Linked DNA regions of Homo sapiens: region 2 is linked to region 1. The links come from fine-mapping of genetic effects on plasma protein levels. A gene starts in region 1. The other region holds a variant in brackets. All regions are shown on one strand. Distances are between the middles of the regions. Region 1 holds the start of PTS (6-pyruvoyltetrahydropterin synthase). Region 2 overlaps BCO2 (beta-carotene oxygenase 2).

The links. PIP is the chance, under the fine-mapping model, that this variant and not a neighbour inherited with it causes the effect. The UK Biobank Pharma Proteomics Project read protein levels with antibody pairs (Olink). The fine-mapping took linkage between variants from a reference panel, not from the people measured, so its PIPs are less certain.
Region 2: its variant is fine-mapped to the plasma level of the PTS protein (UK Biobank, PIP above 0.99).

What each region holds. Positions count from the first base shown.
Region 1 is chr11:112,224,695-112,227,612 of GRCh38, reverse strand. It overlaps PTS (6-pyruvoyltetrahydropterin synthase), which reads right to left and starts at 1,185. Exons shown (of 6, transcript NM_000317.3): 1 at 1,087-1,185. The coding sequence starts at 1,169. RefSeq lists silencers at 253-547, 905-1,314.
Region 2 is chr11:112,204,327-112,207,244 of GRCh38, reverse strand. The region is part of intron 8 of BCO2 (beta-carotene oxygenase 2); the gene reads right to left. Among named protein-coding and RNA genes, the nearest start is that of PTS, 21 kb to the left of the region's middle. The variant C/G (reference allele first, on the strand shown) is at 1,381.

The sequences.
Region 1 (2,918 bases):
TCGCCCTTCGCCTTCCACCATGAGTGGAAGGTCCCTGAGGCCTCAACAGAAGCAGATGCTGGTGCCATGCTTCTTGTACAGCCTGCAGAACCAAATAAACCTCTTTTCTTTATAAAATACCAGTCTCAGTATTCCTTTGTGGCAATGCAAAATGGAATAACACACCCCCACTTTCTCCTGCTCAGCCACTTCTTGTATTTAGAGTGCTAAAGTCTTTTGCACAAAATTTTCTCAGTGTACCCTCCACAAAATAGGCCAGATTGGAAACCCCATACAAGATCCCTGATGCATCCGTTACCTAGCACAAGCCCTGACAAGCACGAAACAAAACCTGGTTTAGCGAATGGAGGGATGAATCCTGTTAGATAGCGATGGTCATCCTCATTTCACAGACGACGATACGGAGGGCCAGAGGGTGGAGCTGGTTAGTGCGTGGTAAAATTCCTCAAAATCAACTCGTCAGTGCATGCAAGCAGTATGTATGATCGGGATTCAAATCCCAACTATGCTGCTTCGGAAACTGAACGTCTGGGCTCATTTTTTTTTTTTTTTCTCCTAGCCACTAGACCACCAGGGACTGGGTTCATCCAGTCTTTGGTAAAAAAGGGGCTAAAATTTGCCTTGTAATTACATTAGATATGGTGGCCAATGCTCCTGGCATACAAGATTAGCTAACATTTACTGAGTGTCTACGCCGCGCCAGGTACTGTGTAACATAGGCGAGTTTAACACTGCTGAGTTTCACAGCAACCCTGTGGTCTACACCAAGGGACTCCTAGGGGCAGAGACGTTTCTTCGAGTCGCAGAACCGGGTGTGGGCCCCGCACCCAGACGTGGGCCATCGCCCTCCGCAGTCGGCTCCGTTAACCATCAAGCTCCCCCACCCCTCCAGGGCTGGGGACACTCCAGCCCCCATCAGGATGCTGGAGGCCGTCCGAAGCCCCACGAAGCCGACCAGCGCGCGTCGCCCCAGCAGCCCCCGCGCCCCTCCCGGGCCCGACGTCAGCACGCCCGCCGGCCCCGCCCCGGTGACGTTCCGGGGCCCGGCGCCCACCGCCCGCCGCTGTACCTGTGTGCACACCCTACCTGTACAATCGGTGGCTCGCGCTGAAGGAGATGCGGCGGGACACTTGTGCCTGGCAGCGACGGCCACCACCTTCCGTGCTCATCTTCCCGGCGCTGTCTGCGGTGCTCGGCCGGCACCTCCTCCCGCCGCGCGGCCGGTGCCTCCTCCCACCGCGGCTGCGCAGTGCGTGCCAGACGCGCCCCTAGGAAGTGCGTCTCCGCTTCCGCTCTGGCCAATCCCGGCCTCGGGAGACAGTTAAGGGTGTCTCTCGCTATCTGAATCTCTTCGGAGAGCAAGATTTGGGATACCTAAGCATACCCTGGAGTGGTCAGGGTGGGTGGGGACCCTGTGTCCTTGATCTGTTTGCCCCGCCTGAGGTCACGCCACGTAGTTAGGGCCCGTCTGGGCACACTTTGGGTCCTGAGTGACCTCTCTGAGCCTCCTCTCCCACTCTCTCCTGTAAAGCTCCAGTGACTGGTGACTCAATCGGATGAACCCCAGGGCCACAGTCCGCTTTATAGACCAAAAGGAGCAGGAATTGAGCCAGGCGGGCGTGGTGACGCACTCCTGTAGCCCCAGCTATTGAGAAGGAGAGGGATCACTTCAGCCCAGGAGTCCAACCTGGGCAATAGAGCAAGACCCTCGTTTCTCTTTTTCTTTTTTCTTTTTAATTATTATTATACTTTAAGTTCTAGGGTACATGTGCACAACGTGCAGGTTTGTTACATAGGTATTCATGTGTTATGTTGGTTTGCTGCACCCATCAACTCGTCATTTACATTAGGTATTTCTCCTAATGCTATCCCTCCCCCAGCCCCCTACTCCCTGACAGGCACCGGTGTGTGATGTTCCCCACCCTGTGTCCATGTGTTCTCATTGTTTGATTCCCACCTATGGGTGAGAACATGCAGTGTTTGGTTTTCTGTCCTTGTGATAGTTTGCTGAGAATGATGGTTTCCAGCTTCATCCATGTCCCTGCAAAGGACATGAATTCATCGTTTTTATGGCTGCATAATATTCCATGGTGTACATGTGCCACATTTTCTTAATCCAGTCTATCATTAATGGACATTTGGGTTGGTTCCAAGTCTTTGCAATTGTGAATAGTGCCACAATAAACATACAGGTGCATGTGTCTTTAAAGTAGCATGATTTATAATCCTTTGGGTATATACCCAGTAATGGGATGGCTGGGTCAAATGATATTTCTAGTTCTAGATCCTTGAGGAATCGTCACACTGTCTTCCACAATGGTTGAACTCATTTACACTCCCACCAACAGTGTAAAAGCATTCCTATTTCTCCACATCCTCTCCAACATCTGTTGTTTCCCAACTTTTTAATGATCGCCATTCTAACTGGTGTGAAATGGTATCTCATTGTGGTTTTGATTGGCATTTCTCTGATGGCCAGTGATGATGAGCATTTTTTCATGTGTCTGTTGGCTGCAGAAATGTCTTCTTTTGAGAAGTGTCTGTTCATATGCTTTGCCCACTTTTTGATGGGGTTGTTTGATTTTTTTTCTTATAAATTTGTTTAAGTTCTTTGTAGATTCTGGATATTAGCCCTTTGTCAGATGGGTAGATTGCAAAAATTTTCTCCCATTCTGTAGGTTGCCTGTTCACTCTGATGGTAGATTCTTTTGCCGTACAGAAGCTCTTTAGTTTAATTAGATCCCTTTTGTCTATTTTGGCTTTTGTTGCCATTGCTTTTGGTGTTGTAGTCATGAAGTCCTTGCCCATGCCTATGTCCTGAATGGCATTGCCTAGGCTTTCTTCTAGGGTTTTTATGGTTTTCGGTCTGATATTTAAGTCTTTAATCCATCTTGAGTTAATTTTTGTGTAAGGTGTAA
Region 2 (2,918 bases), 20 kb after region 1:
AACACTACCTATTCAACTTCTATTCACTATCTTGCACTTCTATTCAACTCGAAGTCCTAGCTGGTACAGTAAGGCGAGAAAAAGAAATAAAGCCCTAAGTATTAGAAAGAAAGCTGTCATTATTTTCAGGTAACATGACTGTGCACATAGAAAATCCAAAATAATCTGTGGATCAACTATTTGAACTAATAAGTGAATTTAGCAAGATCTCTGGATATGAAGATAATATACAAAATCAATTGCATTTCTATAAAGAGCAACAAACAGAAAATGAAAGCTTAAAAGATACCATTTACAATAATTTCAAAACACACAAAAAGAAATGTAGTATCTTTATACTGAAAACTATAACTTTACTGAGAGAAATTTTAAAAGACCCAAATAAATGGAGGGATATTCCATGTTCATGGATTGGAAGACTCAATATTGTAAAGATGTCAATTGTCTCCAAATTGATCTACAGTTGCAATATTGTATCAGGTTTTTTCCTTGCAAAAACTGACAAGTTGACATCAAATTTAAAAGTTTCTGCACAGCAAAGGAAACAATCAACAAAACGAAAAGGCGACCTATGGGCTGGGGAAAAAAATTGCAACCACATATCCAATAAGGAATTATACTCAAAATTTGTATATTTTTAAATTTTTTTGTAGAGATGAGGTCTTGCCATCTTGCCCAGGCTGATCTTGAACTGCTGGGCTCAAGCAATCCTCCCACCTTGGCCTCCCAAAGTGCTGGGATTACAGGCGTGAGCCACCACACCTGGCCTCAAAATTTATAAAGAACTCTTACAACTCAATACCAGAAAAACAAATAACCCAATTAAAAAATGGGAAAAGCCGGCCGCCGCCCCGTCTGGGAAGTGAGGAGCGCCTCTGCCCGGCCGCCCACCGTCTGGGAACTGAGGAACACCTCTGCCCAGCTGCCGCCCCTGCCGCCCCAGGAGTGCCTCTGCCCAGCCGCCCACCCTCTGGCAAGTGAGGAGCGCCTCTGCCCGGCCGCTGCCCTGTCTGGGAAGTGAGGAGCGCCTCTGCCTGGCCCCCACATTGTCTGGGATGTGAGGAGCGCCTCTGCCCGGCCCCCGCCCTGTCTGGGAAGTGAGGAGGACCTCTGCCCAGCTGCCGCCCGTCTAGGATGTGAGGAGCGCCTCTGCCTGGCCGCTGCGCAACCTTCCAAGTGTGAAGTGACAGCCTTGTGTGTGATCTTTTCTGTCTTCCCCAAGTTTGCATTTTCAATATTAAAGTTTACTTTTTAATTAAAAGTTAAAAATAAATTAATTAATTAATTAATTAAAAATAAATAAAAAATGGGCAATGGACCTGAACAGTCATTTCTCCAAAAATAGAGGCCAGGTGTGGTAGCTCACACTTGTAATCCCAG[C/G]ACTTTGGGAGGCTGAGGCAGGAGGATCACTTGAGCCCAGAAGTTTGAGAAAAGCCTTGGCAACATAACAAGGCCCCTGTCTCTACAAAAAAGTTTTAAAAATATTAGCTGAGTGTGGTGCCATGCACCTGTAATCCCAGCTACTTGTGAGGCTGAGGCAGGAGGATCATGCATGCCCAGGAGTTTGACAGCAGCCTTGGCAACATAATAAGACCCTGTCTCTACAAAAAAGTTTTTAAAATATTAGCTGAGTGTGGTGCCACGCACCTGTAGACCCAGCTACTTGGGAGGCTGAGGCAGGAGGATCACGTGTTCCCAGGAGTTTGAGGCTTCAGTGAGCTATGATCATGCCACTGCACCCAGCCTGGGCAACAGAGTGAGATCCTGTCCCTAAAAGAATAAAATAAAAAATAAAATAAAATTTGAAAGTCCAATAGGCATATAAAAAGGTGCTCAACATCACTAACCATAAGGGAAATACAAATTAAAACCACTATATAAAACCTCACACTCATAAGGATGGCTATTATCAAAAAGACAAGAGATAACAAATGTTGGCAAGGGTGTAGAAGAAAGGGAACTCTAGTACATTGTTGGTGGGAATATAAATTGGTACAGCCATTATGAAAAACAGTATAGGAGTTCCTAAAGAAATAAAAAATACAGATGACCCTTGAACAACACGGAGTGGGGTAGAGGTGCCAACCCCCTACATAGTCGAAAATCCACACATAACTTTTGACTACTCAAAAATTTAACTACTAATAAACTATTGTTGACTGGAAGCCTTACCAATAACATACAGTTAATTAACACATATTTTGTATTTCATATGTATTATATACTGTATTATTACAATAAAGCAAACCAGATAAAAGAAAATAAGAAAATGTTATTAAAGGCTGGGTGTGGTGGCTCAAGCCTGTAATCCCAGAACTTTGGGAGGCCAAGGTGGGCAGATCATCTGAGGTCAGGAGTTCGAGAGCAGCCTGGCCAATATGACAAAACCCCATCTCTACTAAAAATACAACGGGCATGGTGGCAGATGCCTGTAATCCCAGCTACTCGGGAGGCTGAGGCTGGAGAATTGCTTGAACTGAGGAGGCGGAGGTTGCAGTGAGACGAGATCACGCCATTGCACTCCAGTCTGGGCAACAAGAGCAAAACTCTGTCTCAAAAAAAATAAAATAAAATGCTACTAAAAGTCATAAGGAAGAGCAAATATATTTACTATTCATTAAGTGGTAGTAGATCATCATAAAGGTCTTCATTCTCATTGTCTTCACATTGAGTAGTCTGAGGGGGAGGAAGAAGAGGGGTTGGTCTTGCTATCTCAGGGGTGGAGAGGTAGAAGAAAATTTGCATATAAGGACCCATGCAGTTCGAATCCATGTTGTTCAGGGTCAACTGTACAACATATGACCCAGCAATCCCTCTCCTGGGTATATACTCAAATGAGATGAAATCACCACCTCATGAAAATAGCTGCATTCTTACGTTCATTGTAGCATTATTCATAACAGTCAAGAAACAGAAAC